Linked DNA regions of Homo sapiens: region 2 is linked to region 1. The links come from fine-mapping of genetic effects on plasma protein levels. Region 1 holds a variant in brackets. A gene starts in the other region. All regions are shown on their reverse strands.

Region 1 (2,906 bases):
ACACCTAAGATGGGTATGCGTTTGTGCATTTAAAAATGCCTCAAGGAACTATTGCTGAGGAACAGAAACCATCGCCGGCGCAGAAGCGTTCGCGGACCACTTGGAGATAGATGCCAGTACAGCAATTCTGTTCCAGGAGGCTTCGGCTTAAGAGGGCCGGGGAGGAGGAGAACCCTCGGGAAATAGCAAAAAAAAAAAAAGATTTTTCTTTTTCACTCCAGCGACAGGAAAGCCTTAAAAACATAAGCAGCTCTCATACCCACCCGCCTCACCAGCCGCGCCTCGCAGTTCGACAAAATGCGTCCTAGCCTTCGCCACTCGCGACCTCTACCGCGCAGAGCCAGGCAATGAGGGAAAACAGCCAGCGAGGCCCGCCCTCCGGTGCAAGGCTCGGCATCCGCGGAGGCCCAGGGCCGGCCCCGGTGCGGCGGGCAGAAGCAAGCGCGGCGGCCCGGCCCAGCTCCGGTGGGCGGACGGCGGGACGCGCGAGCCGGCGGGGCCCGAGGCCCGGGTTCCGGGGCCGCCCGCGACTGCGTCTTTGCCGCAGAACAAAAGCGCTCTGCGCCGCGCGCAGGCCCGGACCGCGAGTGCCTCTGGCTCCCGGCTCCCGGCCCCCGCCCCGCCCGGACCCCGGAAGGCGGAGGGACCTCGGGGTGCTCGTCTCACACTTACCGACAAAGGGAAGAGGACCACCCCGGCAAGCGGGGAGAAAACCGGCGGCCTCCCGGGCCCCAGAGTTTAAGTCAAGTGGGGTCCGCCTCCAGGGGCGGGTCGAGGAGCCAGGCCCAGGATCCAGGAACAGCTACGCTCCGCCTCACGCCCGAGGCGGTGGCTGCGAGGGCCGCGCCGCCGCGGTCCTAGTGCCACCAGAGAAGCCGCGGACCCGGCCCGCAGATAACACCCGGGCTTGCAGAGCGCTTTCATCTGCCCGACGCGGAAATCTCCTGCAGCGATCTTCTACCTTCAGCGTGCATCCGCAGCACCCAGAGGGCACGTTAAAGAGAGATTGAGAACCACCAGCAAAACTGCTGATTCAGTAGGTTTGGGGTGGGGCTGAAAAATGTGCATTTCTAACAAGTTCCTGAGACCGACTGTTGCTGCTGGCCTCAGGACCAATTTTTTCTATAAAGCGCATGGAAGTCAGAGTGCACCCAAGAGATTGTTAACCCTTAAAAAACAGAAAAAAAAAA[AAG/G]AAATCAACAAGTTAGAGGCAAATAAGTGTGAAAGAAAGTGGATAGTCTATTTGGGGATTCTGAAAGTCCCTGAGGAAAGTTGACTTTGGAGACCAGATCACGAAGCACGACCTCTTAATTGCCGACCTTTTGTTATAGATTAACTCCCTTATTTTCTTGTTCCCAGCTCAGACCAGATGGCATCTGAGATAAAATACGCATTGAATAAGATAAATGACCGCTTGACTATTACATCCTTAATGTGGAATGTTAAATAGACCCTTCCCAAAAAGAAACACTGCCTTGAACCAATCAAATTGCTATGCGTTAACCTTCTATGGAAAATGTTGACATCCTGTTAAGCTTCCCAGACCCTGCCTGTGTAAACGACCCTCAAACTTCTCCCTTTCGAAGCACTGACCCCCATCTTTTGGAGTCTGTGTCCTACCGGGTCGCCATCCTCAAACTTTGCACTCAAATAAACCAATATTTAATCATATTGCCCGAATCTCATTATTAAGGTTTACGTAAGCGTTTACTTAGTAATGAAGGTTGCAACCAGGATGGCAAATCAGAGATTGTGCCACTGGAGAGGGGCAAGGGAGCTTATGTTTATAGGAATTTATTTGTTACATAAATTGTCAGATTAGTTCATTGGTGAATTAAACGAAGAAGTCTTTAGTCATTACTAGAAGAGTGCGTTTGCGTCTGTCAGAAACAAAACAAAAAAACTACATACAGAATATTCTTTCTTTTTTGGGGGGGGGACGGAGTCACGCTCTGTCGCCCAGGCTGGAGTGCAGTGGCACGATCTCGGCTCACTGCAAGCTCCGCCTCCCAGGTTCACGCCATTCTGCTGCCTCAGCCTCCCAAGTAGCTGGGACTACAGGCGCCCGCCACCATGCCCGGCTAATTTTTTGTATTTTAGTAGAGACGGGGTTTCACCATGTTAGCCAGGATGGTCTCGATCTCCTGACCTCTTGATCCGCCCGCCTTAGCCTCCCAAAGTGCTGGGATTACAGGCATGAGCCACCGCGCCCGGCCAGAATATTCTTAAAGATTGGGGGTGGCCAGGTGTGGTGGCTCAGGCCTGTAACCCCAGCACTTTGTGTCACGCGCATCCGTGTGAAGAGACCACCAAACAAGCTTTGCGTGAGCAACAAGACTGTTTATTTCACCTGGGTGCAGGCGGGCTGAGTCCGAAAAGAGAGTCAGCAAAGGGTGGTGGGATTATCTTTAATTCTTATAGGTTTTGGGAGAGGCTCCGCGGAACAATGTTTTGCGGGCAGGGGGTGGATCTCACAAAGTACATTCTCAAGGGTGGGGAGAATTACAAAGAACCTTCTTAAGGGTGGGGGAGATTACAAAGAACCTTCTTAAGGGTGGGGAGAATTACAAAGAACCTTCTTAAGGGTGGGGGAGATTACAAAATACATTGATCTGTTAGGATGGGGCAGAAACAAATCACAATGGTGGAATGTCATCAGTTAAGGCTATTTTCGCTTCTTTTGTGGATCTTCAGTTGCTTCAGGCCATCTGGATGTATACGTGCAGGTCACAGGGGATATGATGGCTTAGCTTGGGCTCAGAGGCCTGACAGTTTGGGAGGCTGAGGTGGGTGAATCACTTGAAATCAGGAGTTTGAGACCAACGTGACCAACATGGTGAAACCCTGTTTCTACTAAAAATATAAAAATTAGCCAGGCGTGGTTGTGGGCACCTGTAATTCTCAGC
Region 2 (2,906 bases), not on the chromosome of region 1:
GTGAATTAAGGATGAGCTACATCTCATGACCTCGTCACAGACCCCTACTATAAACATCTGCATACAAGTTGGCATATTACAACAATAGCATGAGAGTCAGGGTCTGTAGAAATTCCCAGCCTAACTTTTTCCTGGACTGGCCAAACTGAACCTGAACCAGTGTATGGGCAATGTAGTATGCTTGTCAGAGGCACCAAACTGCTAACTCAAAAATAAACATGACTAAAAGAACTTCTCCCAGTATACCCATATGAAGCTGACCATTTGCCCAGTAAGAATGCAATGAAAAGGGCTTTTAATGTACAGCCAAATGGCAGTCCAGCAAGGAAGCTCATGAGCAACCTACAAGTAGTGAGCATTTTGATGTAATAGAGACTTACATGCAATTCAGAATTATGTTTACAACATCACAAAACAAAAATTTAGAGATAGGCTCTCACTCTGTTGCCTAAGCTGGAGTGCAGTGGGATGATCATAACTTACTGCAGCCTTGAACTCCTGGGTTCAACTGAAGGTCCTCCTACCTCAGCCTGCTGAGTAGCTAGGACCACAAGCACACACCACCGCAACTGGCTTAAATTAAAATATAAATTGTAGAGATAGGGTCTTAATGTGTTGCCCAGGCTGCTCTTGAACTCCTTGCTTCAGGTGATCCTCCCACCTCAGCCTCTCAAAGTGCTGGGATTATAGACCTGAGCCACAGCACCTGGCCAACTGACCTATGATTTTACACAATGGCTGCTCTTCCCTTCTTTAACTATTATTCATTCTTCTTTGATCCTCATTATTTGACTGTAGTCCTTCTTATGTCTTGTTTTCCTTCATTACCTCTTATTCTATCACATTGCCATTGTCATTCTCCACTGGGGAAGCTCTTTCTTGCTGAAGACTGGAAAGACAAGTCCATTCACCTGATTTTCTGTAAGATTGTGGCTCATGTATTGACTTGTCAGACAATTCTGAAGTTTCATCAAAATTAGCTATCATGCTTGCATAATGGCCCTGAACCCTCACTCCTACTCTTAGCTTCAGTACCATCTATGTCCTCAACTGTCCATGATACTTATAATTCCCGTAAATCTTCACTTAACACCTAACATTTATTTAATCTTACTAGGCAAGGTAATAAGAAATACATAGGTTTGCCTCCAGAAGTGGGTTCTTAAGAAACCCACCAGAGGAACTCCTCTTTCAGATGTCCACATTAGAAGATTTCATATCACATTTGGTGCCACAGGCCTTTGACAAGGAGGATGCAGAGGAAAAAGCAAACTTCACCTCTTCCTAGGGAAAGTGTTGGCCTGCCAACAGGAAAGAGGCAACATCTGGGAAAATCCCCAGTCTTTGCCAGGAAGAGTCCATGCCAACCCCACCCCATGACCCCTGTCCTGCCTACTCATTGTCACTCTTCACTCCAATGTCCCTCCCCCAGATCCTCTTATAAAATCCCACTCTTTCCTGACCAGACAAACCATACCATATCCCACCAGAGAGGTAAGTGGGAGCTGAGAGAAGATGAGACCCAGGGAGGAGCTACTGCACATGACACAGGAGAATACATGGGAGGGTCCCTTCCTCAGGGAGCACAGGAACTCTGAGACTCAGCAAGGGTGTCCTGGGAGGGCTCGGGGATGGGAGAGTACACAGATTCACAACTCATTCAGAACTGTAGAAGATGATGGATGTGACCAAGATCACTTTAGTCCTAGGGGACTAGAGAAGGAAAATGACATGAGGCAGTGGGGTATCTGTGTGTTCTCCCACTGACCACGCTTTCTTTAGTGACTCCTGATTGCCTCCTCAAGTCGCAGACACTATGCTGCCTCCCATGGCCCTGCCCAGTGTATCTTGGATGCTGCTTTCCTGCCTCATGCTGCTGTCTCAGGTTCAAGGTGAGATTGCTTTGCCTCTAGCACTGGGTTCCCTATGAATCCTCAGAGCTAACAAGAGGAGGAAGGCTCCTGTGTGTCATGTGAGGTAATGACGTGGTGTCTAATGAACCTGCCTGCAGTTCTTGCATCATCTCTCCTTCCTTCAGGTTAACTTGCAGTGGGAGGCTCCATGGTGGTCCACTAACAGTGGAATGAGATGGCTTCCATTTAGTCAGTGGACTCTAATATACACTGGTGGGAAAGTGGACTCTAATATACACTGGAGGGTCAGTAATGAGATGTGGGGAGGGACAATGATTGGAGGACCCAATGTAGAGACAGCCCAGAGTGAGGAGAGTATTGAATGGTTGAATAAGGGGAAAGGGTAATAAGAGACTGGATGGTGCTCCATTTACTACGGCTATTTTGAGATAAAGAATTTCTGAAAACATAAGGGAAGATGAAGGGGTGTCAGGAATGTGGTCTTCCTCCCCAAGGACATTCCTAGGTATTCCCCAAGGTCATCTCCCACCCCAAGCCCCACTCTTCATTTTACCCTCCCCCCTCTTCTTCCACCTCAGGTGAAGAACCCCAGAGGGAACTGCCCTCTGCACGGATCCGCTGTCCCAAAGGCTCCAAGGCCTATGGCTCCCACTGCTATGCCTTGTTTTTGTCACCAAAATCCTGGACAGATGCAGATGTGAGTGGTTAGATGTGGTGTTGGAGGTGACCGGTCTCAGGGGGAGGAGGGTCTCCATTCAGGAGAGTTCCTTGGGAATGAGGATGAACACGTTTATCTTTCACACAGTCCTCCTCCCACCTACCTTTGCCCTGCCCTCCCTCAGCAGGTCTCAGGCTCCCTCTCATTCTCTTTGTTGCCCTCAAAGCTGGCCTGCCAGAAGCGGCCCTCTGGAAACCTGGTGTCTGTGCTCAGTGGGGCTGAGGGATCCTTCGTGTCCTCCCTGGTGAAGAGCATTGGTAACAGCTACTCATACGTCTGGATTGGGCTCCATGACCCCACACAGGTGCCAGTAT

Alleles and levels. Positions count from the first base shown, and alleles are read on the strand shown. Strength reflects both the effect of a copy and how common the allele is.
For the plasma level of the protein whose gene starts at base 1,469 in region 2, allele AAG in region 1 goes with a lower level than allele G (weak association).

The links. PIP is the chance, under the fine-mapping model, that this variant and not a neighbour inherited with it causes the effect. Protein levels are from antibody-based Olink assays in UK Biobank. Linkage for the fine-mapping came from a reference panel and not from the study's own genotypes, which makes the PIPs less certain.
Region 2: REG3A starts here. The variant in region 1 is fine-mapped to the plasma level of the REG3A protein (UK Biobank, PIP above 0.99).

Annotation. Positions count from the first base shown.
Region 1 is chr12:31,957,258-31,960,163 of GRCh38, reverse strand. RESF1 (retroelement silencing factor 1) reads right to left here and starts at 749. Exons shown (of 6, transcript NM_018169.4): 1 at 673-749. It overlaps LOC105369725 (a long non-coding RNA gene), which reads left to right and starts at 860. Exons shown (of 2, transcript XR_931503.2): 1 at 860-1,036; 2 at 1,360-1,671. RefSeq lists a silencer at 439-778 and enhancers at 1,831-2,624, 2,628-2,906. The variant AAG/G (reference allele first, on the strand shown) is at 1,191.
Region 2 is chr2:79,158,316-79,161,221 of GRCh38, reverse strand. It overlaps REG3A (regenerating family member 3 alpha), which reads left to right and starts at 1,469. Exons shown (of 6, transcript NM_002580.3): 1 at 1,469-1,494; 2 at 1,783-1,892; 3 at 2,453-2,571; 4 at 2,759-2,896. The coding sequence starts at 1,817.